Linked DNA regions of Homo sapiens. The protein of the gene in region 2 interacts with the protein of the main gene of each other region in a biochemical or structural test. Each region holds a gene or a part of one and is shown on either strand. Other genes may lie near its edges.

What was found.
Region 1: the proteins of EHD1 (region 2) and RBSN form a complex in vitro, tested with the Homo sapiens proteins (one study listed by BioGRID).
Region 3: of the proteins of EHD1 (region 2) and RFFL, one has a biochemical effect on the other in vitro, tested with the Homo sapiens proteins (one study listed by BioGRID).
Region 4: the proteins of EHD1 (region 2) and RAB11FIP2 form a complex in vitro, tested with the Homo sapiens proteins (one study listed by BioGRID).

The regions. Positions count from the first base shown.
Region 1 is NC_000003.12:15,096,131-15,103,780, forward strand, and holds the start of RBSN (rabenosyn-5), read right to left. Parts: upstream 3,019-7,650; 5' UTR 2,905-3,018; exon of another isoform or gene 2,892-2,904; intron 2,145-2,891; 5' UTR 1,989-2,144; intron 581-1,988; 5' UTR 405-580; intron 159-404; 5' UTR 1-158. UniProt on the Homo sapiens protein: Rab4/Rab5 effector protein acting in early endocytic membrane fusion and membrane trafficking of recycling endosomes. Required for endosome fusion either homotypically or with clathrin coated vesicles.
Region 2 is NC_000011.10:64,875,603-64,882,980, forward strand, and holds the start of EHD1 (EH domain-containing protein 1), read right to left. Parts: upstream 3,020-7,378; 5' UTR 2,886-3,019; coding exon of another isoform or gene 2,863-2,885; coding exon 2,459-2,862; intron 1-2,458. UniProt on the Homo sapiens protein: ATP- and membrane-binding protein that controls membrane reorganization/tubulation upon ATP hydrolysis. In vitro causes vesiculation of endocytic membranes. Acts in early endocytic membrane fusion and membrane trafficking of recycling endosomes.
Region 3 is NC_000017.11:35,011,704-35,018,726, forward strand, and holds part of RFFL (E3 ubiquitin-protein ligase rififylin), read right to left. Parts: intron 5,904-7,023; coding exon 5,820-5,903; intron 4,878-5,819; coding exon 4,667-4,877; intron 3,061-4,666; coding exon 3,037-3,060; intron 447-3,036; coding exon 265-446; 3' UTR 1-264.
Region 4 is NC_000010.11:118,008,934-118,015,956, forward strand, and holds part of RAB11FIP2 (rab11 family-interacting protein 2), read right to left. Parts: intron 6,178-7,023; coding exon 6,132-6,177; intron 293-6,131; coding exon 65-292; 3' UTR 1-64. UniProt on the Homo sapiens protein: A Rab11 effector binding preferentially phosphatidylinositol 3,4,5-trisphosphate (PtdInsP3) and phosphatidic acid (PA) and acting in the regulation of the transport of vesicles from the endosomal recycling compartment (ERC) to the plasma membrane.

The DNA.
Region 1 (7,650 bases), on a different chromosome or scaffold from region 2:
CTCTCAACCCTAGGAAGGCAGGAATCTCATGCCAAGAGTCAGCTTGATTCCTCCCAAGGAACCATGGTTCCCGCAGCATTAGCTTAAGCAGCACACAGATGGTGAGGAAGTGGCTTCATGGCCCTGGATGAGGTTTCCTCTCTGGAGTAGGAGGAGCCCTAAGAAAGAAAAGAAGAAGGGAAAAAAGCCAATTCAGGCAAACTGGTAGCAATTGAGGATTTTCTTCATTCTTTTCACAGTTCAATGGGGTACTTAATGTTTATTCAGTGCAAGTTTGAGAAAACAAACTCTTTCTCAAATCCTTAGACCAAGCAAGCTGCAAAACCTAAAATGTGAAAACATCACTGGAGAACAAAAACTCAATGAAGTGGGAAGCACAGATTCTTGAAATAAGCAAACAATACCTTGGCAATTCTCTTACATTCATTCCAAATGATCCAACTTCATAATTCATATGCCACTTCAGCCACTGGGGGAATGTCTGAAGTACTTATCAACAAGCAGAAGTTTTTACTTGATGCTCTTTACCTTGATTGTTTATTCAACCACATATAGTAAGTTCTTGATACTTGTAAGACACCTGTGTTAGAAATGCAAAGATGAAAAAGATATAGTATCTGCCATAAAAACATACAAAAAATCAAAAATCCTAACATCAGTTAAAGAGAAACAATAGAAACCTACTAGTCAAAAAGAAAAAATCTATTTTATATTTGTAGAGCACTTATCTCTAATGGGCGTACTATATTTTCCTTTTTAAGAGACAGCATCTTGCTCTGTCACCCAGTGAGCTATAATTGCTCACAACAGCCTCGACCTTCTCGGTTCAAGTGATCCTCCTGCCTCAGCCTCCTAAGAAGCTGGGACTACAGGAGTATGCCACCACACCCAGCTAGTTTTTAAATTATTTATAGAGACAGGTTCTTGCTATGTTTCCCAGGCAGGTCTCTAACTCCTGGCCTCAGGCAATCCTCCTGCCTGAGCCCCCCCAAACTGCTGAGATTACAGATGTGAGCCACTGCACCCTGACAGATCTTATAAGCCATTAAGTGACAGTTAAGTAGCAAACCTGATGTTCTCACTGCTTCAAAAATAAAAGGCTGGCCAGGCATGGTGGCTCAAGCCTGTAATCCCAGCACTTTGGGAGGCCAAGGCAGGCGGATCACCTGAGGTCAGGAGTTCGAGACCAGCCTGGCCAATATGGTGAAACCCTATCTCTACTAAAAATACAAAAATTTGCCGGGTGTGGTGGTAGGCGCCTGTAATCCCAGCTAGTGGGGGTACTGAGGCAGGAGAACTGCTTGAACCCAGGAGGCGGAAGTTGCAGTGAGCCGAGATCATGCCATTGCACTCCAGCCTGGGCAACAAGAGCGAAACTCCATCTCAAAAAAGTAAATAAATAAATAAATAAATAAATAAATTGATTTGGGGCCTAAACACTTCAGGGCTTAATAAGTTACATTCTCTTTCTTACTGGCTCATGGCAAAGTCACTTCCAATGTCACCTCATCAAGACACCCAGTCACAAGAGAAATTGAGACAAAACCATTCCACAAAAGCAGAGAAATTTCTCCCCAAGAACCTGGGGATACAAGCCACAGTATATAGTGAGGGGAGATGTGTGACCCTCAGCTTTGGATGGACTGTAGAAGACCACCGAGGAGGGACTGCCTGGTCCTCAAAGCTGAAGGGTGGCAGCAACTCAGAAAATAAACAAATGAGACACCAGGTCCCTATTTTTTCCCTCTAGTTAAGAAACCCAGTGACTTCATAACTTTTCCACTGGAATATAGCAGCCCTAGGTCTGGCCTGTTCCCTCCCCAGCCAGTGGTTCATCTGATGCTGACTCTGACAGCTCCCTTTCTTCCCATGCACTCACCCCTAACGACCACAAATAACACAAAGCCCACCACATCCATGCCACACAACCACCCTTCACGCCTCAGCCCAAACCCAAACCTCACTTCCTCAAAAGAAATGCCTCTTACTCAGAGCATCAGAATGGACTTCTCCTTCACAGCACTCATCTCAATTTATAACCGCAGGTACATACGTGAAGTGACCAAGTAAGACTGTAAAATCTGGGAGGGCACAGACTCTATATGTTTTCCACTTCGCCGTCTCCCCAGGGTTTAGCACAGTACCTGGCACACACAATGAAGCAGCACAATAAAGCTCCATGAATGAACGAAGAAATGAATGAACTCCAAAATCATATAACTAAGCATACACCATAAAGAAATCTAACACAACCACCGAATTGGACCCCACAACCATAACTGAACACATAAGCAAGCCCCTCGCACTCTAAATCACGTAAAAAGTAAAAAAAATAAAAATAAAAAAAATAAATATAGCTACATGTTCTGCAGCCGTACATCCAGCATGAATGTCACCCCGCCACATGCCGCATCGACGACACATCCCACAGCCGCACTCAACCCGGCCTCACGATCGCAACCACAACCCACATAACTAACATGATTATACACACATCGCATGACCACACACAACACGAACGACTCAATCCCGTGAAGCAGACATGACAACGTCACACATCGCACAGACACCACACAAAACACTCCGAACATCTCCACACGAACTCAGAATACAAACGCTTCAGCTTTACACAACCAGAGAATCAAACACAACCGCTCGGGAGACAAGCACCCACCCACTCCACCCACAGCTGCACAACCAAACCCAAGTGTATACGCCCCGCGTAACCGCACAACCACACAGAGCCCAATCATCAAAGGCACACACAAGCGAAACGCACGGCCTGAAAGCCCCATCTCCCACCTCTCACGTCACACCCACCACAACCACACACGGCCCGCCCGTCTCCGTTCTGGAGGAGTCGTGTCCCCGCCCCCCAGACTGGGCCTGACCCTCTGTATGTACCCTGCCGGGCTCCTGCGGGCACCCAGGTTTGTCCCCCCCTTCAGGCCCGGGCTCTGGGCCTCCACCGTCCGTCACTCAGCCGCAGCCGCCATCTCCATCGGTCGCTCGGAACTCGGCAGGTGCGCCTGCGGCGGCGACGAAACCGGAAGACAAGCTGGTAGACGCCTGTCGAGCGCCGAGTCTTCGAGGGCGCGAAAAGGGCGGATACGGATTCGAATAGTGGAGGGCGGGCCGGCGGCTTCTGCGCAGGCGCTTTCCGAACGAGGGAGGGGATGGTGGGGAGCGGAGAGAAAGTGGGGCTCGGTAATTTTGTGCGGTTCTTACGTCCCGAATTCGAACTAATAGCGCGTCAAAGCCAGCCAATGGCTCTGCACCGCCTTGTACAGGTGGGAAAGCTGAGACCAGTAGATCTTTGGCTCTTGACCAAAGTGCACAAAGAATAAGGCAGCCAAGGAATCAAAGTTCCTGAGAGCTAGAGACAGAAAAAATATTCAGGGGACGTGGAGGCGATGGAAAGTCCAAGAATAGAACCACATGAGAGTGGAGACTTGGTATGAGAAGGTGTATCCCGGGGTGTACAGCATGGCCAAGCCTGTGGAAAAGATGGCATTTTCAAAAGGCAGGACGATTGATCAGCCAGGACCTACCCCGTGCCTACGCTGTGCTGGGTACCACGGGGTATAGAGAGGCAAAACCTCATCCCAGTCCCGGAGACCTATTTGCTTTGTGCCCTGCACACGTTCTGGACCTTAGCAATAGCCAGCCTCTAGGAGCAAGAGCTGCAGAGAACGATGGGACGATGGGACGATCCTGGGCCTCCGTTTACATCCCTGCAGTGTTACTGGCCCCCTTTTACAGAAGTAAAATGGGGATGATAATGATAGTCTCCGCTTCACAGTGTTGTGAAGATTGAGGTAATTGCACGGTAGGTAGGTAGGTAGGAGGGTGTCCTGCATATTGGCTTTGCCCATCTCACTTTCCCTGCCTCCAAAAAGTCTTCCCCACCTGGTCTCTGGACAGGAGCACTGAGCCTCCATCACCTTCCATTTAAGGACATGGGGCTCCGGACTTGGAGAGCATTGAGTTTTTGGAAAGCAATCACCAGTGAAAGGGCAGTGAACTAGGGGTCTAGAGATCTGGGTTCTAGCCCTGGCTGTACGTTACTTTGTGGCTTTGAGCAGGTCCTTTCCCCTTTCTTCGCCTGAGTTCTCTCATCTGTACAAAAGAAATTGGCTCCAGTGACTTAGCCTTTTCTCTCAATCTGATGGCCAATTTTTTTTTAACGTTACAACATCTGCAGGAGCGAATAATGACTTCCCTTTGTTTACTGATGGAGACAAGGAAGAGGCTTCCTAACCTGTCAGAAGCAAAGCAACATGCCAAGCTCCCCGTCTCCATCACTAGCTTCTGCCTTAGGTCCCAAAAGCCAGGACTTTGGGAGTAAAACCACCCTTTTGAAAGTCTGAAGCCACCGAGGTCCCAAAACGAGCCACACTTACAGGCAGGACTATGTTTTGGGTAGGGCAATGAACGTTTATTAAACCATCATGATTTTTGCTTGTCATTTTATCATTTACAAAAAACATATTTGGTCGGGCGCGGTGGCTCACGCCTGTAATCCCAGCACTTTGGGAGGCCGAGGTGGGCAGATAACTTGAGGTCAGGAGTTCAAGACCAGCCTGGCCAACATGGTGAAACTCTGTCTCTACCAAACATATAAAACATTAGTCGAGTGTGGTGTCGCTCGCCTGTAATCCCAGCTACTCAGGAGGTTGAGGCAGAAGAATTGCTTGAACCCAGGAGGCAGAGTTTGCAGGGAGCCAAGATTGTCCCACTGCACTCCAGCCTGGGCAACAAAGTGAAACTCCACCTCAAAAAAAAAAAAAAAAAAGAAAGAAAAGAAAAGAAAAAAATATCATATTCATCATTTCATTTGCTCAAAAAAGCAATAGCTATGTGGCCTCAACTTGTAAGTTAATTCTGGAAATCACAGTGGATTGGGCACTGCTCTTGATATTGTTTCTTTTTTTTCTTTTTTCTTTTTTTTTTTTTTTTTTTTTTGAGGCAGAGTCTCACTCTGTCCCCCAGGCTGGAGTGCAGTGGCGTGATCTCAGCTCACTGCAAGCTCCGCCTCCCAGGTTTATGCCATTCTCCTGCCTCAGCCTCCCGAGTAGCTGGGACTACAGGCACCCGCCACCACGCCCGGCTAATTTTTTGTATTTTTAGTAGGGACAGGGTTTCACTGTGTTAGCCAGGATGGTCTCAATCTCCTGACCTCGTGATCCATCCGCCTCGGCCTCCCAAAGTGCTCGGATTACAGGCGTGAGCCACCGCGCCTGGCCGATACTGTTAATGATAATGACAAAGACCTTCCTATATGCTTCACACTTCATCAAAAGTACTTTCTTTAATCCTTTAGGCAACTCTATGACTATTTCCAGTTTGATAATAATAAAAATGACTAATATTTACTGAGGGATTTGCACATGCCAGACACTGTTCTATGTGCTTTCCATATCTTAACTCATTTCATTCTCACACAACCCAATGATGTACAAACTATACAAAATGTAATAATATTCCCATTCTATAGAAGGGAAGCTGAGGCACAGAGAGGTTAGGTGACTTGCCCAGGGTCACCAGCTGGTGAGCCTTGAACCCAGAGTCACCTTGCCTTGAGGCTTTCACAATCCCCACTTTTCCTTCCTCTGTGAAGTGCTGATAGACTTCCTGTACCTCCTCAGCTTCCTCCAGGCACCACTCCTGTACTGGGCATAGAGAGGGGATGTAAGCCAATTAGTTCAAAACAGAAATGTGCACGTGCACACAGATGCTCTGGTGTGAGAGGAGAGACCAGCAGAGTCCCCTGCAGGAATTCACGAAAGGTTTCCCAGAAGCGGGCAGCACGTGAGCATGGTCCTTGGGTAGAAACGATTGGGAAGGGCCTTCCAGGCCAGGGGAACAGCATATGCAAAGGCATAGTTATGGAGAAGAACATGAGTCCTTTGAGAAACTCACAGAAAAGTTCATTCACACATAGAGGGATGATATCAAGCCACTCCTCCTTGTTCCCAAAACTGTAGGCAGCCACTTCTAGTGAGAGAATCGTGGACAGCTGGGTCTCTTCACCCTTGCCCCCTGCCTTAGGGTTCTCTATCTTTCTGTCTCTCTATCCCTCTCTCTATCTCACTCTCTCACTTTCTCTTGGCCCTTATTTGTCTAAGTTTATCCCAAGCAGCACAAGACATCTTGGCACCACATTAAAATCCTTGGGCAAGAAAATAAATTATGATATGGATAACATAAACGTCATTGGGGAAGGTCTGGGCACATCATGTAACTTCCCGAAGGGCCAACTGCCCTCCAGGCTGGCCTGGCCCCAGCTCCCAGGCCTCTGCCAGCTGCTGTGGTCTGAGCCAGCGGGTTGAGGGCATTGAGGTTGGCACACCCTGTCTGCTGGCACAGAGAAATGAGGGTGATGACAGACAGCCTGGCAGAGCCTTGCCTGGAGGATGGAGGGAGGGTGTGCTGGGCTGGGCAGTGTCTGAGGGAAGCAGGTGGCAGTTGCTGTGGCCCTGTCAGGAAGGAAGCAGGGAATGAAGAAGGAAGAGAAAACGAGGGGAGAAAGGAAGAGGAAGAGGGAGGGAAAGAATGACAAGAAAAAAGCGAAGATGGAGCAAAAGTCGACCTGGGTTTGAATCCCAGCCCTGCCACCTGTGGCCACGTGAACCTTGGGCGGGTCACTTAAATTCTCTGAGCTTCAGTTTCCTTATCTGTGAAATGAGATAATTATAGTACTCACCTCTTAGGTTGGAGGGTTAAATAGCTTAATATTTGGAAAGTGTTAGAACAGCGCCTGGCACAGGGGAAGGACTATGTAAATGTTTGTTAAATAAAGAAAAAGGAAGAGCAGTGTAATTCACATGCCTTGGCTGTTGTGTTGCGCTGAGTCAGACAATAGCATGAGGGTGTGAGGATCCAATCTGGTGTCATAGAAATAGCTTTGAGAGTCATGGCCTTGCCAGATGGGATGTCTCCAAAAAGAACTCAGAATAGAATCACATAGCAACTAGATTCATTAAATCCAATAGTGGGTGGGGGAACAGCCTCAGCAAACCTGAAAAGCAGGAAACATGGAATTGACTTGGGAGATGTGAGCTTCAAAGCCAATCAGTTTGCAGGTAGCGGGCTGGCATTGTCTTTGACAAAGCAGGACCACTCCAAGCCCATTGGGGCCTGTGGCAAATGGGAAAGAGGCACCACTCCCTTCTCTCCCATGGACAAAACCTTGTGCTGGCACTCAAGCCCTGCATTTGGCAAATGGGGCACATACTGGATTTCAGCATCCACTTACCCCCACCCCCACCCTACTCCCAACTATGCTGCATACAACCTGCACGGTGGCCCTAAGTGCAGGGAGGAGGAGAATCAAGAGCACAGCATGGTCCTCAGGTCACGAGAAAAAGTCACGCTGGTTGTCTGCAGCTTCAGATCTCATTCCCTGACTTACATCTTCAGAGATACGCACCTTCAGCCAGTTGAGAAGTTAACCTCAATTTTAACCCAGATTTGAAACAATCTGTGTGTATATGGTATTTTAAGTATTTGAGGGATTTAAGAGTGTTTGGCATATTAGAGCATCTAACACATTCATCTCATGACTCCAGTTTAAAATCTGTAACTCAACAAATGACTTAGGCTTGTGATTTTAAGTTCATTCAACAAACTATGTATTAAGCACCTACC
Region 2 (7,378 bases):
AGACTGACCCATTATCTGTAGGACACAGACTTGAAGCTGCCTTTCCAACAGACGGGAGGACTCTGAGCCGATCAGCTTCTCCCTTTGGCCCCATCCCCCAGTGACCAGGGGCCCACGGGCAGAGGGCAGCTGGCCAGGGCAAGGGGTGCTCTGCAAGGCAGTGGAGCAAGACCAGCTGACCTGCAGGGCGAGCAAAACGTGGGCCTCACTCTCGCCAGTGCCAGTAGCAATGCATGAAGGCCAGTCCTGGCCTTCCTGCTGGGGACAGGAGGCGCTGGAGAGATGATTACAGAATAGAAGGATGGGAAGCAGAATTGGCTCTGGGAAATCACATACATAAAAATGCCTCATAAATGAGCCCAGAAAGTGAGTTAATATCTATAGGACCCAGAAACCAGTTGCTCTGCAGAGCCCAGGGTATATGGCAGAAAACAAGAAAGGGGAAGCAGCAAAGATGCCTCCGATTCCATCTCACCAAGAACGCACAGGTTTCATCTCGCACAAGTGGCAGTCCCAGTTATGCAATAAGTTTTTGCAAGACACTCTTAAGACACCCTGACTGCACCTTGCCTTGGTCTGCTCCAGCTGATTTTATTCTTAGAGCAGCCACATAGGGGGAGAAGGCCGGCAAGTCAAGTTCACGACTCAATGAGTCTCTTCAAGACTCAGCTGGGAGAGGCTGTATCAGCCAGAGAAAAGCCTCCTTTGTTGCACCCTCCTCGCCGGGCTCACTCCCCACACTACACATCCTGGCACAGCTCTGGGCCTCAGCGTGGGCTGATAGGGCCCTTTCGGCAGGGCCATCAGTGATCAGGGATCCTCTGGAGATGAGGTGGCAGCAAGAAGGAAATAAACGTGTGCCACCTCTCAGATCCTGTGGCACCAATGTCATCAAAGCACCGGTCTCGGACAAAGCAATCTCGAATTGCTCTTTTTCGGGTAGAAGCAGCAGAAAGCAGTAACTGGCTGTGCAAAAGCCAGGCAGTCAGTGCTGGCTGACCTAATGGGTGACTTCCACACATCAGCCAGACCCTCTGAACCTCGGTTTCCTGAACCAGTCAGGTGGGGGCTGCCAAGATGATGTCTAAGATCCTTCCAGCTCTGAAACTCTAGGCTTCCAAATTCAGAAAACTGGTCCTGTGCCATGTCTCTCCTTTCAAAAAAGGTGTGCCCTCACAAGGAAAGTGAAGAGGACTCCGCCTCTTCAGGACCCTTAGCCCAAAGGGCTGCACTCAACCTGGCCTTGACAGACAAACATCAACAGCCGTAAAACAGGAGGGCGGGCTGAAATGCCTGGAAGTGAACAGACCCTGCTGAAGGTCAGCTCTGTGCCTGGAGTAGGCCTGGCCACCAGCTTGGCTCTAGGGCAAGCTGCCCTGCACAGCTGGATGGCGTCTGGAAAGGAATGTGACCGTGCAGGGCGGGGACCTGGAAGGCAGGATTCAAAGATTCCTTCAGAGGCTCTTCGCTGGTGCAGAATTATGAAAGGCATGTGGAGTCCGTGAACGTGGGGTGGCAGGGAGGACAGGGTCTGTGAAGTACTTTGGTATGTCGCCTGGGGGTTGGGACGGGCATGTCTCGAGTTTCTCTGGAGAAAAGTGAGCTTGGGCATTGCACTCCTTGAGGGGCGGGAGCACTGTGTTTCATTCACAGCACTGAGACAGGCAGAGTCCTGGAGCTCACTCTCCTCGCGTGCAGAGGCCACTTAACTGGAAAAGTGAGGTCCAAGTGGGTGAAGGAACCTCAGATTCTGTCCCTCAGTGCACAGAAGGGCTTAGGGCCAGAATCTCATTGCAGGGCTCCCACTGCCACCACCTCATCCTGCTTCCTGAAACCCCTCAGGGCAGCACTGACCTCTTGAGAGCTGCCATTGGGAGAAGTGTTCGAACCTCAACTGTCCCCTGCCTCCAAGGGGCTGCCCCAAAGTCAGCAAGCCACAGCCGATCCTCCTCCTCCCTCCTACACAAAACCACCGTCCCAGGGGAGGCAGAGCAGACCCACACCGCACCAGAGAAGGGAATGGCTAAAAGTTTCATTGTGTTTTGCTATTGACACTTAAGAAGACAGGGAGGGGAGGGTTGATTTCCGTGAATTAGGTGCATCCAGCCTGCGGGACGGAGGTGGAGACCAAGAAAAGGAGCGCAGGAATGGCTCAGCTTCCTACTGCGGCCCTGCTGCTGAGGGGAGTGGGGCTGGGATCTGCAGGAGGGCTTGGTGGTTACCCTGGAAGATTCTGGGGAGGACAGAAGCTGGGGGAGCCGACAACGCCCACTCTTAGACCCCCAGTGGGTTTACTCTGGGAAGGGGCAGGGCCCTTGGACCAGGGAGTGGTCACTGAGGGTCTCACTGGGGCCTCGGAGACAAAGGACGGCGGGGCGACAGCCACGGGAGGGTCAGGCTCCGAGTGAGGGGTGTGCCCCGGACGCGCCCCCCGCCCCCTGGAGTGATGGGTGGGTACCTGTTGAGGAAAGCGTTGCCAAACGCGTTGAGCTTGCGGAAGGGGCGCCGCGGGTCCACCACGAGCGCGTTGCCCGGCACCACGCCCTCAGTGGGGCCGTGCATGACGGCGATGAAGGAGTCGGTGGTGGGCTCGGGCCCGATGCGCATCCCCGGGAAGTCCTGCTCGATCAGGTGTCGGATGAAGGTGGTCTTGCCCGTGCTGTACTGCCCCACGAGGAGCACCATAGGCTTGTTGTCGAAGTCAGCGTCCTCCAGCGCGGGCGAGTGGAACTCGTGGAAGCGGTAGTGCTCCTCCAGGGGTAGCAGCTTCTGCGCGTACAGCTGCCGCAGCCCCTCAGCCACCGTCTGGAAGAGCTCCGGCTCCTTCTTGCGGCGGGCATCCTTGCTGACCCAGCTGAACATACTGCCGGACACGGGGCTGGCTGCTGCGGGGCAGAGCGGCGGCTGAGAGCGGGGCGAGGGTGCGGAGCCGAGGCGGGGCCGGCCGGGGCAGGGAATCGGGAGCGACCCACACTGCGCAGGCGCACAGCCCAGCCCGTCGAAGCGCCCTCTGCCGAATGCTGCGCACCCCTCGCGGAGCGGCCTTTATAGGGTCGGTCCCTCAGTGGCGGCTAGCGCCGCCGCGGCGGGGGCAGGGCGGAATTGGGGGCGGTAGGGAGGAGCCCCTCCCAGCCCCGCCCCTCCGACTGGTGCCACGTCTTCCCCTACCCCGCCCCCATTGGCTGATTCCAAATCTCGCGAGGCTGTGGTCCGGGTGCCGTGGCAACCGCACCTGTTTCGCCCCGCCCCTCGTAGGGAGGCTCGCGAAAGTGCTGCGGTTAGGAAGGCGAGGAGCGGGCGTTCGGCGGAGACGGCCTCTGGGCCGCGCGCCTTCCGGCACCGTGGCCCCCCCACACCCCCGCGGGATGGCTCCACGAGACACCCAGTCAGGCACCCTGGTTCCCTGACTACGCGCCGCGCCCGCCGTTCGCCACGTGCGGTCCTCCAGCTGGCTCGGAATCCCCGGAAGCATCGGAGTACCCCCAGGCGGCGGCACCTCCTCCTCTCAGCCCAGCTTCCCAGACACACACTGTCTTTGTCCCCTCATCTTTTATCTGCTTTGGGAGAGGGAGAGACAGGAAAGTGGTAGCAGAGCAAGCTGAGGGAGTAGAGAATCCGGGGCGGGCTGGTGACTGGGGAAAGAAAAATGGGCAGCGAGAGGCCTGACCTCCCCTCAGGCCGACGGGGTGGGAATGGGAGAGGGACGCAAGCGAGGGAGGACATGGGTGACACCGGACTCGCGCGGGAGAAGAGAAGGCTTCCCCACAAAGGCTATAGCTGGGGCAAGGCAGGGAGGGCATGAGGAGGAAGTTGAGGCTCTCTGGCCACTTGCGTATTGGGAAGTGAAATCGGAAATTCCCTATGTGGGGAAGAGGGGAAGTGTGGGGGCAACAATGAAATCTTGTGGGAATTTAGGGGGAAGTTTAAAAACCCAAATACTTCCACTTTCCTCTCGGGGTCACCACCATTTACCATCATTTACTGGGATCTGTGCCCTACCTCCCCTTACCAGTTCCTGGCTGTTCCATGGGGCTCACTCCCCCGCCATCCTCCCCGGCCACACACAGACCCCTTTGGCTGTCCAGGCTGGTGAGAATCTTCAGTGGGTGATGTCAGAGCTTTGGGGACTGATTGTTATGTAACCAGTATCAAGACACCAACCTGTGGTAGCAGGACCCTGGGGGCTCTTAAAGAGATCTGAATTGAACCTGCGACTTTGAAAGCCTCAGGTCCAACTTCCTCGCTTCTGGGAGATGTGGAAGCCTGGAGGGCTAGGGGCCTGTATCAGGGGATAACTTGGGCTGGTAGGCTAAGAGGAAGAGGCAGGAACTCAAATCTGAGAACGGGGGATATCTCAGGGGAACTGAGTGGTGGAATCTAGAGAGGACACGATGGGAGGTTTGTTCGCCTACCGCTTGTAAGATCCCTTCCGAGGGAATAGATAGTTCCCTTGCCCTCCCCTCTTGCTCCCTAACCATTGGAGAGCGGATAAGTAATTCCAACCCTGCCTGCAATCTTACGCCCCTTAGTGCTTTGATTTGATTCTTTTCATCATAGTAAAGCACACAAGCTACTGCCCCCCCCCTTTTTTTTTTTTTTTTTTTTTTTTGGTGTTATTCTCAAAAGAAGATACTGAGGCTCCTAGGCAGAGCTGTCACCAGAGGCTGCATGCCAATTGGTGACGAGGAGCCTCCGGCGGGCCTAGTCCAGACTTCCCGGGTCAGCCTTAGAAGCCACAGTGTTTGCCTCCTACTCAGCACTGTTAGGGATCCACCCCGGAGATGCAGTTTCTGGGTTGATCTAGGGAAGGGCCCAGGGCTGAGGATCCTGAATGAAGTAGTTGTTCAGTCGTCTCAATGAGGCTGCTCCAAACTGGCGCCCCGGCAGCATTCTCATTGACGCGCCATGGTTTTCAAATCTCCCCAGAGCCCTGTGTGCTGGGAAAACCCAGCCCTAGAAAACTGAAAACAACAAAATGTTCCTGGGTTATTTATAAACAAAACCCAGACCCTGTCGTTATGTATGGCCACTTGACTTTCTCCAAAGATCTTAAAGGACTGAAAGAAGGGATCTCTGTCACCCTGGTGAGGCCCACGTGACCAGCAATTAGTTTCCCCCAATTTCATGGAGTTGGCACCCAGCTTCCAGGCAGCTTCCTTATCTTGTCATGCCCCACACCGAAAATGTCCTAATTTTTTTTTCTTTTGTGTTTTCTGAGTAGGGCAGTTTGTTTGGTGGGAAAGTTGTATAAAATGTGAATGCACCCTTTCACTTTTGGTTTCTCCGCTGTTTCACTTTCTGCCTGTCTGCCTGAGCCCATGGCAGATTGATGGAGGGTTCAAGTATTTTTCTTTTATCTCAGAAACTGTGCCATCCCCCACTCCCAGTGTTTTATTCTTCAGTTAATAAATCCATTCCCTGCAAACCCAGGGCCTTGAGGTACCCCCTAGCTCTCCTCAGAAACGCCCTCATCCAGCAGAAAGGGGCCTCACCTCCCCTCTAAGTGGTCTGCTTGGTCCTGTCATGGCCTGATCTAGGAAAACATCTACAAGGTCCCTAGAGACAACTTAAAAAAAAAAGGCCAGGTGCAGTAGCTCATGTCTGTAATCCCAGCACTTTGGGAGGCCGATGCAAGCAGATCACCTGAGATCAAGACCACCCTGGCCAATATCACAAAACCCCGTCTCTACTAAAAATACAAAAATTAGCCAGGTATGGTGGCGTGTGCCTGTAATCCCAGCTACTGAGGAGGCTGAGGCAGGAGAATCGCTTGAACCCGTGAGGTGGAGGTTGCAGTGAGCCAAGATCGCACCACTGCATTCTAACCTGGGCAACAGAAGGAGACTCCATCTCAAAAAAAAAAAAAAAAAGAGAGGTGCCTTTTCCGCTTGCGGTGCCGTGCAGTGAGGAGCTCTTATCTGTGCTCTTGGCTATGCCATCCAAGGGCCAGCTGCAGTCCGTGCAATCCACTGCAAACATGGCAGTGGCCTCATCAAGGTGAATGGATGGCCCCTGGAGATGATGGAGCCGAGCGCTGCAATTCAAGCTGCTGGAACTAGTTCCTAGTTCTGCCTCTGGGCAAGGAGCAATTTGCTGACATGCACACGCATGTTTGTGTGAAGGGTGGTGGTCATGTGACCCAGATTTATGCTATCAACATCAGTCCATCTCCAAAGCCTTAGTGGCCTATTACCGGAAATAAATGGATGAGGCTTCCAAAAGGACCAGAGGCATCCTCATCCAGCATGACTGGACCCTGTCAGTAGCTGACCCCCGTTGCTGCAAATCCAAAAACGTTGGAGGCCCTGGTACCTATGCTTGCTACCAGAAATCGTACCAATAAGCCCATCACAGGGACCAGGATTCACCTATATAATAAACTATGTTTGAGAGTGTTTTTTTTTTTTTGAGACAGAGTCTCACTCTGTGTCACCCAAGCTGGAGTGCAATGGTGCGATCTCAGCTCACTGCAACCTCCACCTCCTGGGTTCAAGTGATTATCCTGCCTTAGCCTCCCAAGTAGGTGGGATTACAGGCGCCTGCCACCATGCCTGGCTAATTTTTTGTATTTTTAGTAGAGACTACTAAAAATACATGTTGGTCAGGCTGGTCTCGAACCCCTGACCTCAAGTAATACACCCACCTCAGCCTCCCAAAATGCTGGGATTACAGGCATGAGCCACCGCACCCAGTCGATATTTTTTTTTTAAGGAGTTTTTCTCCAAATATGGCAGAAAAATCGAGCTGAGAAAAACCAAAACATAGGTTTCTCCCTGGGATGAGGAGTGGTTCATTCTTTCCACTGACAGAGTTTGCATATCAGCACAGATTTTTGTTCTCACAGTCATGAGATTTGGGCAACAAATCAGTTTTCCCGACACAAGGTGAGGAACTGAGGAGGACTGTTCTTTTGAATGCCGGGTCTCCCACACTGGCAAGAAGAGTGTCCTCTCCACACCATGAGGCCTTTCTCTTGCAGCAGCTGTGGCCCTTGGGTGATGGCTCTGGGGAGATTGCTGGGCCCCAGAGGGCTCTGAAGGCATCTGGCAGCCAGAACATGGCCCAATTTGGAGGTGACCGTGTCAGAATCTTAGCTGCTTTCAAATTCCAGTGAGAAAGAGCCTGAGGCCCGGGATGTCCAGTGACTGCTCGAAGTAGCCCAGACTGAATGAGAATCTGGGCCTTCGGAGTCTTTTTTTTTTGAGAGGGAGTCTCCCTCTGTTGCCCAGGCTGGAGTGCAGTGGCGTGATCTTGGCTCACTGCAACCTCCACCTCCCGGGTTCAAGTGATTCTCCTGCCTCAGCCTCCCGAGTAGCTGGGACTACAGGCGTGTACCACCATGCCCGTCGGCTAATTTTTTCTATTTTTAGTAGAGATG
Region 3 (7,023 bases), on a different chromosome or scaffold from region 2:
TTACCATCATCACTCCAAGATCACTGAACCAAGAACATACCCATGTGATTTATACAAGTTCCCACTGGCCTTGGGCTTTGCCAGCCAAGAGGTACACCCCTGGGAAGACAGGCATGCTCAGGGGTGACATGGCATCTTGCTTGACCTGGTTTTGGGAACCCTGCAATATTTCTACTAGCTTGCTCCTCTGCAAGCTGGCCAACCCTGAGCCCAGACACCCCAGGCTATTTCCCTGTAAGGCACTGAAGAAACCGATGCAAGCTCTCAGGACCGGAAGACATGCACAGCTCGGATTACATACTGCCGGCAGATGGGACATTCATTCATGCGCTTGCCACACTTGGTACAGGTTACCATGTGGCCACACTCCAGAAGAACACAGTCAATGGGTGAGTCCATGCAGATCTTACACAGGTTCTCCTCCAAGCCTGATGGTACTGCTCCCCCTGTACAAACACACAGGGCAGAAAAAAAGGGGCAGAGGAGTGAGGAGAATGTCTTAAGTGTATAGGGGTGACTGGGGGAGGGAGGTGGGAGATAACAGGTACATTGTAAACAAAGTCTCAGTGCACATGCTTCCCTCAAATAGAGCTCCTCCGAGGAAACATTTCCTCAATAACCAACTCTGGTTACTTGTTTAATCCACACTTCATCCCCTCCAACAGGTAAAGATTTGAAAAGTACACAGCACTTGTGGATCAGACACATCCCAGAACATGAGAACTAAGGCAAAGTTCTCAAAGCTTAAAAGAAATAATTTTCAGACTGTTGGGGCTGTAATATAGTGAGTGTGTGAGTGGCACGTAGGGACTCATTATCCCCTGAGGCAGAACAGGCTAAAAAGATAAAACTGGTTCAGAAAAGTTTAGATAGAAATGGAACTGTGATGAATGGTTCATTAAGGATCACAAGGCTTTATCTATAAACATATCCTCCATTTAATAAAGTCAGGGATCATGGGGGACCCCTCTGCTATCTCACAAACTACTCCCAGGTTTCCTGAGGAAACTTCCTGGTGGAGAAACTTGGCAGAGATTACTGCTCCCTCTTTCTACCCCCACAAAACTTTTTTATACCCCCATGACTGCTTATCACATTGGATTAAAATTTTGAGTTTGCCTACTTACTCCCAGAGTAGACTATGAGCTCTTTAATTCAACATATTCAATCAATTTTTACAATTATATGCTTAGCATTTATTCCATGCTCCAAGGTTAGATATTCATCTTTGAAGCCCCCAATGCCAGTTATATGGTAGGTACTCTAAATGTCTGATGAATGAACATCTTCCCAAGGGAATGACAACATCCCACATTTACTGAATGCTTACCGTGTGCCAGGCAGGGTCCTGAAAGCTTTGCATGTGTTAACTCACTGAAGCCTCACAAAAACTATAAAGTAGGACCTCTTGTTATTTTCATTTTATAGATGAGGCCAACTGGGGCAAAAAAGTTAAGTGGCTTGCCCAAGGGCACAAAGCTGCTAAGTCGAGGAGCCAGGATTCAAACCCAGGCAGGCTGGCCCCACAGCTCCTGCTCTAGAATGGCCTTCTGCCTAACTGCCCTAAGAGTAGAAACTATCCAGACAGTATCAACTGCTGAGTGCACAGGGTTCTCAATAAATGCTAACTGGCTTGTGTCACTAGCAGAATATAGTGGGCATGACCAGTATCCTAGTAGAGCTGACCCAAACAGAAAAAATAATGTTCAAAAGCCCAGCCATCTCCAATATGTCTTAAATTGTAGCCTGAAGTAGGTACCCATAAAAAGGAACTGATCTCACAGAAGTCACCTCTACCATCTGGGGGTTGGCCAACCCATAGAGGAATTCTCCCTTATTGCATCTATACTTTCTCTTTTCTGGACTATTAAAAAGTCAAGAAATACTTCCCCCTAGGAGGTAGGCTGGGTGTGAAAGGGAGTGAAACCCATTTGCCTCTTTTGAGGTGCTGTTGGTCCTAACAGAGGTTTGGAGACTATACAAATACCTAAGATGAATGGGAATAATTTATAATTTTCAGTTACTCATTCTCTCAGAAGTAACAACAAACACATTAACTCAGTTGTCAGCATTCTCCCAGGGAATCAGAAAAAGAAAGGAAGCACCAAGTAGATCAGCCTGATCTTGGTACCGGTGATGCTGGGGGGTTGGAGGGTGGAGGTGGGTCTAGAACTCCAAATGGTTTTGGGGAATTGAGAAAAGCTCAACTGTTTTTTATGTCTGATTAGAAGTAATCAGACATAAAATTGCCCATTCTGAGCAAAAGGCCATTTTACTAAATAAATTTGGGAAATCTTCTGAAATAAGTTTTAAAATGCTGCAGGCTAGTCCAACACTACTCTTAGAACGTTCTCTCTTGGAAGGGAGTTCACAACCATATACCCTTGAGGCTTTTGAAAACACATAGCATATTTTAGAATGTCCCCACAGATGGTCAGGAGTTCTGCAGTGTGTTCTGGGAGTACCTGAGGGCCCAGTGGTGGTCTTTAAGTGAGTGGCAGCTGAGCTGAGATATATAGCTTGTGCCCAGAGAGTAGCACATGTGTTAGCTCCAGAGTAGCTCTAACCATTACCAGCCCTGTACAAACAGGGCTGTCTCAGGTCACCACCCTTTCTTTTTGGTTAGTACCAGAAGCTGCTAAACACCCTGATTCCCCAGAAGGTGTACACAGAGACCCTCCCTACCCAGACCAGAACTGAAAACACCAAGATTTTAAAAAATGAGCTGAGTGTGATACATGCCACCCCTCCTCTGTTTCAGTGTTTTACAAATGTTGGCTTATGAGCTCAGGTAGCCCAGGGACATGCACATCAGTCAGTCCGCCCCTACGTATGCTCCACTCTGCTTCCTGCACAGCGAGCAGAGAGAATTTCTAAAGATGGTGAGAGGCCCCCTGGGTCTCAGTGAGTTTCCCACACACCCTCTCTCTGGGGGCTCAAATGCTCAGAATTCTTAGATTACTAAAGGGATTGGGGTTGAAGGAGGGGAAGGACAAAAGGGCCTAAGCCCATTCCCAAACAGAAACAACTACATACCGTTTTGGTCTTCGGCACCACTGACTGAAAAGGAAAGAGAAGGATGTCTGAATAGGTAAGGCATGATGGTACAAATACAGTCTCTTACTGCCCTGACATCATTTCTGAACTCTTACCACTCCCTGCTGGGAACCAGGCTTGCCAAGAGCCTAGATGGACATCTGCCCTCTACTCGCTCTACATGCTCAGAACTCACACAAAGCTCCTACTCGTGCATCTGGTCTACTTTTATTTTTTATTTTTTTGAGATGGAGCCTCACTCTCTTGCCCAGGCTGGAGTGCAGTGGCATGATCTTGGCTCACTGCAACCTCTTTCTCATGGGTTCAAGCGATTCTCCTGCCTCGGCCTCCTGAGTACCTGGGGACTACAGGCACATGCCACCACTCCCGGCTAATTTTTTGTTTTTGGTGGAGATGGTGTTTCACCATGTTGCCTATGCTGGTCTTGAACTCCTGATCTCAAGTGATCCACCTGCCTCAGCCTCCCAGAGTGCTGGGATTACAGGCATAAGCCAACACACCCAGCCTGGTCTACTCTTAGGAAAAGGTATTCCACCAGTTTGCACAAACTGCCAAGTAGAAGGATACTGTATATGTGCAATATCCTTTTCTATTTTGAAGTCAGCATTAAAGTCAAGAAAGAATGAACTATCTAGCTGTTTCAGTCAGTCAGAGAATCTGGATAAAGTTCCCACGTGGAGTCATCTGTTCTGTTCCCCAGGTCCTGACGACTGGAGAGAAGACTCTTGAAACAATCCCAAAGGGAAAACAGACTCCATGTCAGTAGGCCTCAGTCTGTAATCGGGTGAAGAGTCAGTCAGATGACCCCTAACACTGATGAATTTGAGCTACTGGTAGAAGAGAGCCTGAAACCTGACTTCAACCACTCTTACCAAGCAAGGAATCAGTATGTTGCTCTGTAGGAACCAAATCAACTGGGGATGGGAGGAAAGGAGAAGATTCTGTGGTGAAATAATTTCAGGAAATGCTAAGTTCAAAACAGCCAAAACACATTTCTCTTCTGCAGGACTTCTCTGCCTTTAATATAAAAATCTACCATAAATCAGTAATGAAGATATGAGGTATTTTTCCCTAAACTCATTTAACCACAGACCCAGATATTTTCCTGGGCATCTCCTGAATGATACAGTGTAAAATGCTCTGGGAAATGAACAAAAGGAAGAGCCCAAGTGCAGATGGAACAGCTATCTTCTCCTGCCATGTATGTAGATTCACTTTCTACCTCCCAAATCTTCAGAACAAGCATTCTTATTCTAAGGTAAGAAAACTTACAAGGTGGTGGTGAGTAGGGAGGGGATAGCATATGGTGAGAAAGGCTATGGACTTAGACCATAAAATTTTCAGTTAAATTTTACCTTTCAGATAAAGGGGTGATGCTAATAATGTCTATTTCATAGGTTGCTCTAAGGAATAAATACATACATGCAATGCCTAATCTAGTTTTGACACTCAACCACAAATGACAGCTATTATTAGACGGTGCAAATATGTAAGGTGTCTCCTTCCATGGCTTAAGTGTGGAAATTGAGTCAGGTCAATACCATCATGCTTTGGAGTGACAGCAAACACTCCTGAGCTCTGTAAAGCTACCATGCAGATAGCCCCTCACCCAGGTGCTGGAGTCCTTTCTGATCCTTGTATAGCCGGGTCACTCTCTCCATCAGCTCCCACTTCTCACAGCAGCCCTTGTAGTTGACAAAGTTGCGAGCCAAGATCTCTTTCAGCTGCCGCACTGTCAGGCCTTCAATGTCCTCCAGGTCAGTCAGGTCAGACAGAGAGGCCCTTCGGCCTGGGACAAAGCTGTCCTCTGAGTCAATAGACTGCAATGACAAAGATGAGATCAGTGTGCTCAGCTCTTACCTCCCCAAGCTCTTTCTCCAAGGACCCCAAAGCAGTCACCACATCATAATTTTGGTGACTGACCTCATGAAGGGTAGGAACAGAGACAGGATGAGTACCTGGCATGGTGCTCTGCATTGCAAAATATACTAGAATCTCTTCCTGACCCACGATTCTGTGCTCAGGAGCAAACAGACACAGACCAACCAATCAGTGTGATATAGTACTAGATAGAAGTATAGTAGAAGGAGTGCTGGTTTGAGTCATATGACCCTAATTTTGAATCTTGACTCCTCTGCTGTTAATGCTAAATAATATCCAGCAAGTTGCTTACCACTCTGAGCCCGTTTGCCCCTCCATTAAGGGGAGAGAGCAGTCCTACCCCACAGGGGTCCTGTAGAGGTTAAATATGGCCGCACATGAAACCCAGCATGGTGCTGGCCCTTCTCCCCTGGAGACTTCTGCTTGCCCACAAGAGGCACATTTCCCTGGCAAGTACTCCTCTATACACAACCTTGGCCACAGCTCCCTGGTCTGTGCTCTGGACTGGCCCTGCCTGGCTAATTGTCTGACCTCCTTCCCTTGACAATGGCTACAGTGTGCTAGAAGCAAGGAAAGAACAAGACTTTAACAGCAGGACCACAAGCCTGCCCTCCGGCAGCTCTTAGAAAGTCAAGAGACTGGAAATACAATGGGCCATGAGGCTTCTCCGTCTCCACTGTGACCTCACAACTCCTTATAAATACACTGACCGCTTCACTAGTTAACCTGGAACACTAACACTAAACCCTACCCCAAAAATATAATTTCGGAAGCACTATCATCACACATTTATTCTCTCTCCACTCGACTCTGCTAAGAGGTTCCGAAGAACACCAGTGAAAGAGGAAAGGTGAAGACACAGACCCAAGCAGAGGCCCCACCTGGGTCTCATCCTCAGCAGGTACTCTGGCCACGCTCTCCAGGTAGACGGGTTCCTCTTGATCCTGAGACACATGGCCATTGGCCTGTGGGAAGAGAAAAGTAACATCACATCTAGAGATGTCCCAGAGATCTGCATAGCATGGGCCTCTTTTCAACTCACACAATGTCCAGAATGTACTCCCATCATGCCCAGAAATCCGGAGCCTCTTACAGCATCATTACAAAAGCCTGCTCTCTCATACCAACTTTGTCAAGCAGAGAAACAACAAAAATACATTTCAATAGACAAAGCTGCCCTCTAGAACAAAACTGCATTAATTCTGCACACACCAGGATGGCAGTAGCCACAACTCATCATCAATTTAATCTCAGCTTGAGCACCACAGGTGAAGGGAAGGTCATTGTGTCCATTCCACTGCTGGACTGCTCTCTATCTGGCATCAAGGTTTTTCTTGACACTGATCCAAAATTGCCATCCCTATCCCTGGTTCTGCTCCTCAGACCATAGTCTCCTGGGGTTTTTGTTTGTTTGTTTTTTGTTTTTCCCAAACTGTTTATACCATGTTTTCCCCTCCTTCACACTAAATCTCCCTGGCTTCCTTATCTGACACTGATGGGACAAAGTTTCCAGATCATCACCACCCTAGTCTCTTTCTTTTCTGCCTAGTAACTACTCTCACATTCTGGAAATGTGCTCCCCATGTTGAGCACACTATTATTAAGTGCTATGTCCAGACCTAGTCAAAGAGTATTTTAATGTATCTAAGAATCTATTAGCCTAACACTATATAAAACACTGCCTATGCTTACGGAATTTCATTATGCTTAGAATTCTCACTTCTCAAAAGGTTCCTCCTGAGTACTCTTTTAGGAGGTTTGGCCAAAGAGTAGGCAGAACTGTTAGCCTCCTAATTCCATCACCATTTAAGCCACAAACCCCTTAAGTAGATCCTCTTCGCCCACTGCTCCCTGCAGGCAAAGGGCCTGCTGTGAGCTCAGAGCAAAGAGGTGTCTGAGCTCACAGGCCTTTTCCACCAGATTCTGGGGATGCCAGTGAAGGGACAATCTGGGAAACCAAAGACACCCACCGACCCCAGCCACTCACCCCACATTAGGATTCATAATATGGAGCTAATCAAGAAGAGGCAACCAACTGCAATGGAAATGAAAAGCAGAAGTAACAAAATGCCAAATCAAGGCAAG
Region 4 (7,023 bases), on a different chromosome or scaffold from region 2:
TTCCTTCCTTCCTTCTTTCTTTCTCTCTCTTTGTCCAATTATCAATACAATACAATTGGCTTTATTAACTGTTAGAGAATTTGCCAGCTTTCCTGGATGGTTCATACGGCACTCTGAGAATACTGGGCGTTTCTTCCATTACCCTTACAAGGAGGTTGTCGATGTAGTCCTCGAGTTCCCGGATGTGGGTGTCTTTCCTCCTAAGGAGTTCTTTGTGTTTCACCAGCTCCTGTAGAACCTCTTCATAGGTCAGACTACGATACCCTGCAGTGGCATCAAAGGGGTTGCTGTCCTAGAACAGGATAAAGACTGTCACTTTCATAGATATAACATCTGGGACAAACATTAAGAATTACCTGGAACTTCGACTTTTTGTTTTTCAAACCCTGATGAAGTTTTTCGCTAGCCTTGCTTAAAGTGAATGTGACAGTTCACAAATTGGCTAGCCAGTCCTGAGGCAAGAACTAGGGCAGATGCACCAAAGTTTTGACTATAACTCTAAATCCTAAAACCCTTTCTAACATTGTGGGCAATTTCCTAATATCTGAGACTGGTTATATCATGTAAGATTACATTAAGAGATGAAATATTCTATAATAAATACAACTAAAATAGATGAAAACTAAAGATTTCTAAAAGTTAACTCAGAGGAACTGTAAGAAGTAACTGAAAACTATACACTTGGACTTGTGTCCTTATGAAACTGCTTCCACTGAACTGTGATTTAATGTTATATGTTTGGCTTCTTAGTGAAGATGGTTACAGCAAAAATCTTTTCTAATTTGCTATGAAAATGGAAGCACTCGGAATTAAATCAAAGATTATCCTTACAGGAAGCCCCATGTGAGTAACTTCTGTTTTAATTTAGAAACAGGCAGAACTTTTCCTCCCCTGAGTAACTGGTCTATTTCTTTCTCCTATAATAATATCTAATTTATCTTCTTTCCCTTTTTGACCCTGGTTATCAGGAAACTCAAGAGTTCAACCATATTAATACTACGGTTAGTATATTTGCATTCTCTCCCATTTCATCTATTTACTTAACTTTATTCTATTGACAAAAATTCTTTTTAGGCAAAAGCATAAATATAACCAAAAATCTTTTTTAAAAGACACTTATTAATTCACTGTTATTACAAAGCATTCTAATATTAATGTTATATCAAAAGTGAAAGAAAAATATTTCTCAGGAATTTAATCAAGGCCCTGTAACATAATCTTTTATTTATAGTGTATAGCATTAAGAGTTTTCATTCTGTAAAACATAATGCCCAATTACAACTAAGCAATTTTTTATTCTTTTTAAATCATAGTTCTCTCATTAAGCCCAACAATTTAAAATAATTTTCATCACTATCTTTTAAAACATTTCCATTTGGCTTTAAGGAAACTTAACTAAAATATTGAGGAAATTGGTTTTCTTGCTGTTAAGGAATACTATCTAATCTATTCAGTGGAGGATGGGGAATGGGGACTGGTGAATGCAGAATGACCCCCACCCCCAATAAGAATTAAACTGTCCTTCCCTGTTTTCAGGATCTACTTTAATAGTGCTATGTATTTGGGGGTGTTCATGAGAAAAGCCAAAGTTTAACTTTTCACTGGCCCTCACCACTTCCCCAGCCTCTCAGCCCAAGGAACCAGGACTTTACCAGACCAGAGAAAGAGAAGCTAGAGTACAGATACCAATTTGATGCTTGGGTCATTGAAGCACACCCACTTCTCCAGGATAAGTGAAAACATTCAGGACTGAAAAACTTTTCCAATTTCATAGAATCTCTCAGGCTTTGTGGAGAAGATACAGCTTGCGCTAGGCCTTCAAGAGTTTGCAGGCAGAAATGCGTAATGGGGCATTTCAAGCAGTGAACTCTGCTTGTTCAAAGAAGGAAACAAGGCTCAAGGCATAGTGGCCAACAGGTAATCCAATAACAGGTACTCTGTAGAGCATGGCTGGAAAATACTGTACAGGACAGCGAGCAGACAGGGGCCGAAATGGAAGGTTTGAAATAGACCACCAAGAATGCTGAATGGTAGTATAAAGAATTTTTAGACTTTTGCTATGGAAAATAGGAAGCCACTGAAGGTTTCTAAACAGAGAAAGGATATGATTAAAGCTATGTTCCAGGAAAAGTAAAATGGCAACAGTGGAATCATTTGGAGGGGCTAAGATTAGGTATAGGGCTATTGAAATATGAAAGACCAGAGTTAGCAAGAATGAATAGAGAGGATATTAAAGGGAAGTGAGTTTAAATTCTATAAAATATGTCTAAAACAACTTAGTTTATTTTAGCATTAGAAACTGGAAACAGATGTAAGTTTCAGTCATATTTCCTTCATCCTTAAAAACATTTCAAATATTGTTCTAAAACCATTAAAGGACAATTCTAGAGATAAGTGTTGTTTTACTTCTCCCTCCTCTCTCAGATCAATTAATCTTTTATAAGTCTACACACATGCGCACACACACACACACACTCTCATGCACGTAGTTACTAGTTTAATTGGTCATAATATATAGTTTGGAGATACATAAGTATTAATTACATTCTTATAAAAGATTATGTTAAGCCGTTTTCTACAGTAAAGAGAAGACATAGTGTAGAGTTCGGTATACTTTTGAAATTTCTTAAAAATAAGCTAAAGTGTCTTACTTCAACTCGAGTAATTCTGCATAAATTTGAGAGAGAAAGCAACTTGGGTCTCACTTTCCTTATCTGATAGATGAGATGTTCTCCATGGTCCCTTTCAACTCTAAAATTGTCTGGTATACCAAGTGATTTTTCTAAACCCCACTTTAAAAACTAATAAACTCTAACTAATGTGATTTCACTTTTCTAATAAAACATTTACTGAGAAATTCATGTTCTTGTGAGAATTGCAGGGATTAATGAAAGGAAGCTAAATGGGATTCATTACTGATTAGTTGACTGCTTTATGCTTTTTCTTTATTTAACATAATAAAAGCATCTATTCAAGTCTCTCTAATCTTAATAAAATTACACATATATAAACTGATTTCTCCAAACTAATTAAGCTATGAAATAGTTAAAATAAAAGTGCACTGTTATATTTAACACTATTACCAGTTAATGTAGTTAAAAATTTTTTGTAACATTTCTCTAAAGACACTGAAGATGAAAAACGTTTCAAAAATTTGTGTTTTGATATAAATTAAAGCCATGATATAAATTAATAGTTTAATCTTTCAAAATAATCAATTATTATTTCAGACTACTGGTCATACTTTATAGCCATACTCTAGAATACACAGATATGTTATTTGGATTATTTTTTTTTTCCTTACAACAATCTAACACTAATGTGTAGACAGATTTCCTGGAAATACATTTCTGGCCTTTTCAATAAATTTTCCGTTTGTCCTTTTATGTGAAAATTTCACCTCAAATTTTAGCATCAAGTTTCTAGGCAGGAAAACATCTTAGAAACATATGTACTATGAATTATATTCTGGAAAAGAATATAAAATAATTAAAAACAGTTTCATGCTGAGTTCCAGATTTTATCTGATATTTGAAAACAATGTAAACCTTCTAATTTTAGGCATGAGATTCTTAAATTGACTGATATACTCCACATATATATATATATTTCTGTTTGTTGATATAACTCCAAATAAAATAATGATTAAGTAATATAAACAATAGAAAATTAAAACATATGCTCATTACAAAAATTATTTTTTTAGAGAGGAAAACTCTCAGGTAAATATAAAAATTATTTTTTCGAAAGATTATTCTTGCAAAAACTTGCAAAATTCATAACTCTCTAAACTGGCAAAGACCAAATGCAACTTACAATGGTTACTCCAAAGTGCTCAATATTTTTTCTTACAGTACTCCATACAGACAGCACTTATGTTTTTAAGATGTTTTCTTATTTTGAAATTTAATGTAAATTTTTCTTCTCTCTTCCCCTTTTACAACCAACCTTTTCTCATTTCTACTCCACCTCTGTTAAAAATGTCCATATGCAGACATAGAAGATGTGGACTGGTAAGAAAATATTAGAATTACTACATGAAGTTTTCTAACCCAGAATTTTAAATAATACAGTTTTGCATAAGATTTTGAGAACTGCTAGTGATCTATTTTTGCTTTACACAGTCTAGCCTTTTAAACTAGGAAATGTACATTTTTTACAATATTTAAATTTAAACAAAAGCAAATTATCAAGACTCAAAATAACTGAAGATTTAAAGAAAGGTTGTCCTGGTAACCAAATATTGGTGGGGTACTAACTGACATCCAAGGCAACTAGAGGAGAGAGAGAAAAAAAAATGAAGGCTTGGCATTCTCTGATCATCTCATTATTGTTCTAATGAGGAACTTTGCTCTGGGAATATCATCTCAGCTACTTTCACATCTTTTGTCCTACTCCCTTCATCTCCCTTTCAGTTCTTAATTAGGCCTTAAAGAGCTCACACTGCCCTTTCAACTGGCTACTGCTCCTGTTTAAACACTGTGCTTTCACAGACAGGTGTTGGCACTAGCATATAAGACATACAAACTTAATTACAAAATACTATGTCCAGAGGGAGAAAAAATAACTTGGTGGATGGCTATTATTGGAGAACTTAATGTAAATTACTTCAAACATCTTATAATCTTCAACATAAAAATTGTTCGAATGCTTTTCTTCAATCATGATCAGTACGAAGATGCGCTTCCTCCTCTTAATTGTATCTTGCAGTAAATTAACAACACCTAGTAATCCTTTAACTGTCATTTAGAATAGTTAGTATTCCAGAGAAAAATAATCACACATCAAGGATTCTTTTATCACCTTTAAATCCTTTAACTAAAACAATTTTCACATTTTATTTCTTTAAAGAATTCTAAGGATGCTTCTACAGCAATAAATTACAAGATTTGGAAAAGTACATTTACAAGCAATCGAAATTGTAATTAAGGTTACTTAATAAACAATAGCTACACATTAAATCGATTTTTTTGATGTTGCATTTTGTTTGAGATTAAGTAACCGCCTGATAGAATTCATTTTACTATCTGATCAAAGGCTGACTTCATATTTTCTCACATTTCTCGCCAGACTGCCATATTATAAAGACTTGAGAATTTATAAAACATCAAAACTTACGAATCGTTTAAATAAAACAGCAAAAACACAGTACAAAGTCCTGTGCTTCTGTAACAGTTTCCACAATTTTAAAGATAAACAACTGCATTTAGAATGGTTTAGAAAATAAACCCTAAACCCACCTTAGCTTCTTCTAGCCATGTCACATCCTAAAAAATAGTGATATGTGATATGGGATTGCCTAAAAAAATTCTTACTATACATCTGGATCGCACACATCAAGGACAGATGGTTGAAACAGCAACCACCAGTGTCTTGGAATAAAGCCTCTATTTCTGTTATTCAGTGAGAATTTAGTTTTCTACCAAGAACGTTTGCCCATATTTTGGCAAAGTAATTTATTCTCTACGTTTAATATAGTTAGAATTGATTGCAGATGCAATGGAACTCTGAACAGAGATTAAATACTGGACTTCAAATACTACAATAAAGTTCAGATTATCTGAATAATCCTTGCAAAATACGTGAGTTGATTTAGGTGGTCGCTACCAATCCTGTTAACATATTTGGTTTTGTTCTGACGAGAAAGATAAGTGTCCTAAAGTATTTGTTCTTTCAAATACTTTCCTGGTTATCTGGCTCTCCTGCCAGGATGCTTTTCTATTGTTGAATGTTAACAAGCAGCTTTATTCTTTCTTCAATCCTTGTCCCAACAACAACAAAAAATAGTCTTTTCTACGTGCTCTTATTTCATAACCACAAATTTGACCCTGACATACAGCTTGCATATTAATTTCAAAAGTCTGTAAACAAAATATGTATATTCTAAATTGGCTTCAATTATAACCAATTTTGCTTGAACTTTCATAGATCATACGAGTCACACCCTATTGTATATTAAAGGCAAAGATTGTATTTTACTTTCTTTCTTTCTCCTAAAATTACTACGCTAAGCTACAATTCTTAGGTAAGTGAGGCAGAAGGCAAGAAGACAAAGGCATTTTTAGAAATGTGTGCCAGAGAAAAAGACCAGCTTACTCTTTGACAACCCTCTAACCCCTTCAGCAACTTACCGGGATTTTCCTGAGGTCTTCATTGCTTGTTGGACTCATATGAAAACTAATAAAACACAAACAAATGTTAAAAGTGTCATAACTCATGTGGGAGGAAACATAAAAATAGAAAAATTTTAACCAACATTGTAATACAAATTTCTAAAGCCCTACATTATTCAGAGGAGTGAAATTTAATCCAAGAAGTAGAAAAAAATCCAGTATTTCCCCAACATTCTTAAAGCATCATTACAATTTCAAACTTTGAAGGAAAACTTTTTAGTTATCAGAACTGAAGAATGAAATAGGAAGTTTCTAAACAACTTTAAACATAGCACTTTTATCCAGCAAGATATTTTGCAAAACTAATTTGTGTGAGAGATTTCCCATTATATTTACACACAGTCACTCACCTTAGGCCCTCTGATATAAAACTAGGGAGAATTAAGTAAATTTAGGTTGGAAAGATTATAGAATAAAAGAGTTAAAGCAATCTGTTTAAAAATGCCATAAGTGTTAGAAAACTCAGCTTTCAAACATTACCCTATCAATAAGAATAAATTCAGAATTGTGGGAAACATTTCTCTCGTTAATGTGATTTCTAAGTAGCTAGTCTTGAAAATTTAAATACTGAAACGAATCAAAACAACACAGATTTCTCCCATGCAGAGAAGAAAACATCACAGCTGAATGCTATAACTATTTTCTTCTTTGAAACATGTCCATTAGATGGGACTGCAACCAAAAGACGCTAAACTTCAAAGCCATCTGATGAGTAAATATTTCATCGGTGCTATTCAAGTTTAATTTTTACCCAGCACTTAAAGGTATTAGCCTTTAAAACCTTCACAAAGCATTAGTGTCCTAAGAACCTTTTTATTCCATGCACAAAACAACAACTGTAAAATATGTA